Regions from separate parts of the Homo sapiens genome. Here region 1 is reported to be linked to region 2. The links are microRNA targets in miRTarBase. Many come from high-throughput screens and were not tested one by one. Region 2 holds a microRNA gene; the other region holds the end of a gene's coding sequence.
What was found. The annotated mature microRNA hsa-miR-4450 reads UGGGGAUUUGGAGAAGUGGUGA and lies in region 2 at 1,812-1,833, shown strand. An mRNA with a match to its seed (bases 2 to 7 or 8) in the 3' UTR can be bound and repressed. Matches are read on the target gene's strand: a 7mer-m8 pairs with bases 2 to 8, a 7mer-A1 pairs with bases 2 to 7 and ends in A, and an 8mer does both.

Region 1 (3,000 bases), not on the chromosome of region 2:
CTGTTTTCATTAAAACTGGAAATTAACTGGTCAGTATTCCACATTCATAATTAGCCCATCCAAAAATCAAGGTCTGCTTATTGGTACACTTGGGCCTTTTCTTCACATGATAATTTGTATTTAGACACACACGCATTTATGGATTCCTTCCAAATTTTACATTTTTTAGTCTTCTTTTTTGATTAAACTTATTATTCCTTCTTCAAGAGGAGGTATCTGTAATGCTTGGCTCAACATTGCAAGGACAGCTCCTCCCTCATCCACATTTACTTCCGAAGTGTCTCCACAACATGCAATCGTGTTGCCCACCCAAGGCATCATTCGTGGGTCAGAAAATGTCGCTGTGAGAGTTGCGTGTGCTTCAGTGTTTTTCCCTTTGTTTTCATACTGCACTTTGAAAAGGATTCAATGACATCTAATGACCTTAATAAGAAATTTTATTCTTATGGGGGCCCTTGACTTAGGGATAATTTCTCTTTTATATGTTTTTGATATGGCAGGCTAATGTATCATTTTGTTCTTTTATTCCACAAACGCAGCAAATTCTAAGCCTAGGCCTGAGCAACTCAGTCTTTCTCAATCACATACAAACTGTGAATGTTGCTATGACTTACTGTAATTTATTTTTGTATATGCTATATTGATTTATGAATGGTATTTACGCATATACTTCATGACATAAAGCCAGTAGAGAACAAATAAGCATGGATACAGTAAGTATAAATATAAATTTCCATATGATTTATTGTTGTTCCTTGTACATAAGAAACAGTAATATACAACTTACACTGCTTTAGAATGTAAAATGGATAAAAATGTGTACAAAAAAAAGCACATTCCTAGAAAAAGGTATTGGCAAATAGTAAAAATGGGAGGTCAAAAGCAAAAAAAAAAAAAAAAAAAAACAAAACAAAAAAAAGAAAAAACCAACAATTCTTCAATTCAGTGTGCAAACATTATATAAAAATAGAAATACTAACTCTACAGGCAGTATTTCCTGATAAATTATTTAAATAGCATATCTACACAATCTGAGATATCTATTCCAATGGCAATGAGAAAATAATTTATAAAAATAAAGCAATGGTATACCAGATGATAGAAAAAAAACATAACTTTCAGAAATTGTATTTAACATTTCAATGCTATTTCCTTATTGGGAATACTTCTCTGCAGAGTTTTTATGCTATGTACAACACTGACTTTTTAGGTACTACAGTAGCTTTAAGTTTGTTAGACACTTAAACTCTTTCCGCTTGATCCAAAAATTCTTTACTCAGTCACACAACAAATGAGGTAATATTTGTATGTAAGTTTCACCTTTTGTCATTTTTTTCTCTTTTGGAAAAATGAAAGAAAAAAGTGTATATGCTTTCCTTCTCCCTGGAAATATGCACAAGGGATGGGGTAAAACAGTATTGAAGACCTCATGGCTTTCTTTGCAATTTAAAACATTTGCAAATGGATAACCAACTAATTCCACTTGAAAAGATAAAACAGAGAAAAAAAGAATCCCATAACATCCACTCTGAGCACAAGGGGCAGAGCAGCTTATTAGACTGATTTTCCTTGTGCTGTTCTTGCAAGAGATTTGCTGATAAATGTCAACTACTTGCTCTCAAACACTTTCCGTATGAAGCCTAAATTTCCAGGCAGAACAGAGTTAATAAATAATCTGTATTTACAATCTTACAGTCACGAAGACTCTCAACAAAGATGACATGGATAGTCTTTACGCTTCTTCCTGTTCCATGAATAATCCTTCAGCCAGATCTTCCAGAATAAGTAAAAAATAAATATTTTACATCGTAAAGCATTTAAAAAAAATCTACATTCCAAAAGAGAGAATTAGAAAACTCCATGATAATTCAGGAAAAAAGAGAAAAGGAATGTTTTAGTTAGGTTGATAATAATTTTGTGCCATTGTAACCATAAAAATATAAGCACGGCTGCCCCTCCTTTGGGAGGCAGCTGGTGCTCACTGAGATGGTAGGTTTTCCTATTTTCCTGCTACATCTGCACAAGCTACATCTAGAATGAAGCCACCAATTTCAATGTGACCAGGCAATGGCAGCCAGCACTGCCTTACACTGGTTTGATTCTGATTCCCTAATTCTGGCCACTGCAGGTGATGAGTAAGGGTGGGGATCAGGGAGGAAGTCCAGAAGCCAGTCTTTGTCTCCCTTTCCTGCTTCTATTTAAGTGCCTATTTACATGGGTTAATCAGCTAACGCCAGTCAGCATCATGAAATCCAGCAATAGTCTTTCAATCCCCTGAAAATGACTTAGTACCGAACATGTAACAGTTCCTCCATATTTTCTTCATACAATCGTCTCGGGTATGCGCCCTCCCCTTAGTGCTTTGGCCTCTGCTCCCCGTGTTCCTGAAGGAGGATGTCAGGGTGGTTTTGTTTGCTAATTCTAGTGAGTCCTCCCTTCTCTGACATGCCTGAAAATGCTTTTGAGTCCACTGCTCAGAGATGGCCTCACAATAGCACCCTGCTCTGTGACAAAGGCAGAGTGGAATGGGCACCTTCCCAACTGAAGCAAGTAGATGCTTTTTCAAAAGGAAACCAAAGCAATTGTTTATATGCTTGGAAGATGTCTTATTCATTGGAGGCTGAATGCTGAGTCTGTTTTTGAAAACTGCATTTTCTTGAGGCAGGTCGCACGTTCTAGGAGTCCACACTGATGCAAGCACAGAAAAGAAGGAAGCCAAGGAGAAGTGATCCTGGGGGTTTTCTCAAGCCCATAGTTCCAGAAGGTGCAATACCAGCATTGGTTTATGATCAGTCTTTCAATCAACAATTTGATGATTAGGGATCTGTTAAATAAACAAATATAAATAAATATACAAATGAAAACTAATTCATAAAAGCATAGACATCTTAGTTAATAAGTTAACCACATAGGAATAGCTCTACTTTTCTAATGACAAAAGCCTAATTTTAAGGTTGTTCAAGCACATTAGCATTTAATTTTATTAGCTGACATTGATGC
Region 2 (3,000 bases):
TAGTTGAGACTTCCAATAAGATTTTATCATTTCTCTTCCAAATAGTGGAAGCCTGATAAATGATGTTAGGATTCTGTACTAGTCTTACTAGTACTTATTCATAGATCTAGAAGTCTCTGTGTCCATTGTGAGATGGGCTGTACGTGGGTCAAATACAGCTTCTGAAGAAGTTGAGATTTGTCTTTGTGCTCTGCTATTAACAGCATCCTAATGAAGCACTCAAGCTACTCCCATCTTCTCTCTGCTTCCTCCATACTGCGCCCCCCAGCCCAATCTCCCTAAAATCTTTCCTTCCTGAGAATTGTTCCTCCATATCTGCCTCTTTCCTGGATCCTCATCCAAACTTGCCTTTGCATTTCTTACTCCCTCAGAGCCTTGCTAGGAGATGATTTGCTAATCTTTGACATGGCTAAGAATAGTAAATGTCCTTTGAGAACAATACAATCTTGCACTAACATACAACGGGAATAATAAAGTTACTATTCATATTTTAAAGGGCAATTTTGCAGGTTGTCAACATCTTACCCTAAAGGAGTGAGTTCCCAATGGTGTAATCTCAGTGACAAACTGTATACCGTGATAGGTGACAGGACCTTCAGGTCATGGGCAGAAAGTGATCTTAATAAAGGCTGACCTTGGCCACTGCAGCCTGCATGTTCTGGGGCATCCTGAGGTCTCCCTGTGTGACTGACACTTCCCCTGAGGACTATTCCCAGTGCAGTCAGTAGGAAACCTTAGTGGTCAATGATGGTGGGCCAGGGAGGTGAGGGACAGAGGATGTGTCAGATATCCTAATAGTATATACAGTTTAAAGACTCATTTCATAATTTTGGGAGTTGTTTTCTAGGGATATTGTGATCGTTCAAATGTAAATATCTGCATCTTGAATATACTGGAAAAAAGTGATTGGCATGTTTTAGGGGCAGCTCTAGCAGTATAACAGTGTACGGGTTTGCCCCTTTATGGTTTGTGGGTAGGAAGAGATTTATTCTGAACTAGTTTTCTCTGCTACCCAACTGCTTATGAAATATGAACACAGGCTGGGTTCAGTGGCTCAAGCCTGTAATCCCAGCGCTTTGGGAGGCCAAAGCAGGTGGATCACTTGAGGTCAGGAGTTCGAGACCAGCCTGGTCAACACGGTTAAACCCTGTCTCTACTAAAAATACAAAAGATTAGCCAGGTGTGGTAGCACACGCCTGTAGTCCCAGCTGCTTGGGAGGCTGAGGCAGGAGAATTGCTTGAACCCAAGAGGAGAGGTTGCAGTGAGCTGAGATTGCACCACTGCACTCCAGCCTGGGTGACAGAGCTAGACACTGTCTCAAAAAAAAAATAAAAAAGAAAAAAGAAAGAAAGAAATATGAACACAAGCTTGAAACTCAATAAAATTGAGATTTAGATCTGTCACTTGCCCTCAACAGGCACAACAAGGTAAGGTGGCCAGATTTAACAATTAAAAATACAGATGTCCTATTAAATTTGAATTTCTGATAATCATTGAATTTATTTTAGTCAAAGTAGGTACCCAATTTTATCTACCAAACCTAGTCACATGACAATTTAGATGTATAGAAAAAAATGTAGGTTCCTTGTCTTCCTTACAAACCCACTTCTGCTGGTTGGCAATAATAATAATAATAATAATAATAATAATAATAATAATAATAATAATTTTTATTCCTGGCCAAGTTAAAAGCTCACCTGGTCCAATCAATTTGAATAGTCCCTTAAGGGGCTCAGTCTGAAATAAAATCCTCCCTTGCTCAGATGTCATCTTTTTTCTCCACTGCCCAGCTGTCTTGCTAAACAGTGTCTGGGGATTTGGAGAAGTGGTGAGCGCAGGTCTTTGGCACCATCTCCCCTGGTCCCTTGGCTCTGTCCATAGCCTTCCCAGCCACTGCTGGCCTCCAACGCTGAATCCTGCAGCTGGTAAATCCATGGTCAGCCATGGCCTGGGCAATGCCCCTGGGATTGCTGGCAACCCCACACTTACAGATTCAGTCTCTGCTCAGCTCCCCTTAGCTTCAGACAACTTAGCATCTGCCAAACTCTCATCCCAGCAACTCCTGACCCAGGGCCCATCCTAGGATCATCTCACCCCACCATAGTTGCCTCCTTGCAAGTCTGCTGGTTGCCGTCTGATGTCTGAGATTCTTCCTTCTGTCTGGACCTCTAGAGACCTCGAAATTGAGCCAGGCCAGACCTACTCCAGTGACCTTCTCCTAGGGTCTCAAATGGTGCAGTGGAGCCAGGGTTCCCTGAGCCCTTTGACATTCTCCTCACTTAGCTCACACACTTTCCCTCTCCTCCCTGAGGCTAGAAGAGAAATCAGAACTTGGTCCTCACAGCTTGACTTGCCACCATCTTTTCCCTCATTTCCACAAGTTGCTGGGATCTTGAGGGCTGGGTTTTCTCACTATTTCTCACTCTTCTCTGTGCTTCCCTACTTCTATAACTTCAAGCTTCTTGTCTTAGTTGGGAGGGGTATCTTCTTTGCACGATGGGAAAATTTTGGCAATTAGAATCCTCTAGGCCTCACCCTGGATAGGTTACAATGGTTGTCAAAAGTGTGATCATGCCCAGGAACTTCTGGAAAATACAAATTCCCAGGCCCTGCTCTAAGCCTAATGAATTGGGAACTCTGGAGTTTGAGCCTAGCAATCTGATTTACCAAGTCTTCCCCATGATTCTGATGCACCCTAAAGAACCATGGCATTAAATATTTCAGCAAATTCTCTCTCTCCCTCTCTACCAACGCCTTTCTTACCATTTTTCATGCCTAAACTCTTATTAGACAGACCGGATACTCCCTCTTAATCTAATTGATTGATTAGCTACATAAACTCAAATCATTTTGTGATTAAAAAAAGAAATGTATAGCCTTAAAAGCAAAGGAAATTCTGATATATGCTACAACATGGATGAACCCTAAGGACATTATGCTAAGTGAAATAAGCCAGTCACAAAAAGACAAATACTGTAAATGATTCCACTTGTATAAGG

Region 1: the mRNA of THBS1 is a reported target of hsa-miR-4450. Seed matches in the 3' UTR shown: 7mer-A1 at 2,143-2,149.

Annotation. Positions count from the first base shown.
Region 1 is chr15:39,595,186-39,598,185 of GRCh38, reverse strand. It overlaps THBS1 (thrombospondin 1), which reads right to left. Exons shown (of 22, transcript NM_003246.4): 22 at 1-2,824. The coding sequence ends at 2,817. It also overlaps a transcript of FSIP1 not described here. Among named protein-coding and RNA genes, the nearest start is that of THBS1-IT1, 11 kb to the right of the region's middle.
Region 2 is chr4:76,571,761-76,574,760 of GRCh38, forward strand. MIR4450 (microRNA 4450) reads left to right here and starts at 1,808; the gene lies at 1,808-1,872. All of the region lies in intron 2 of SHROOM3 (shroom family member 3), which reads left to right.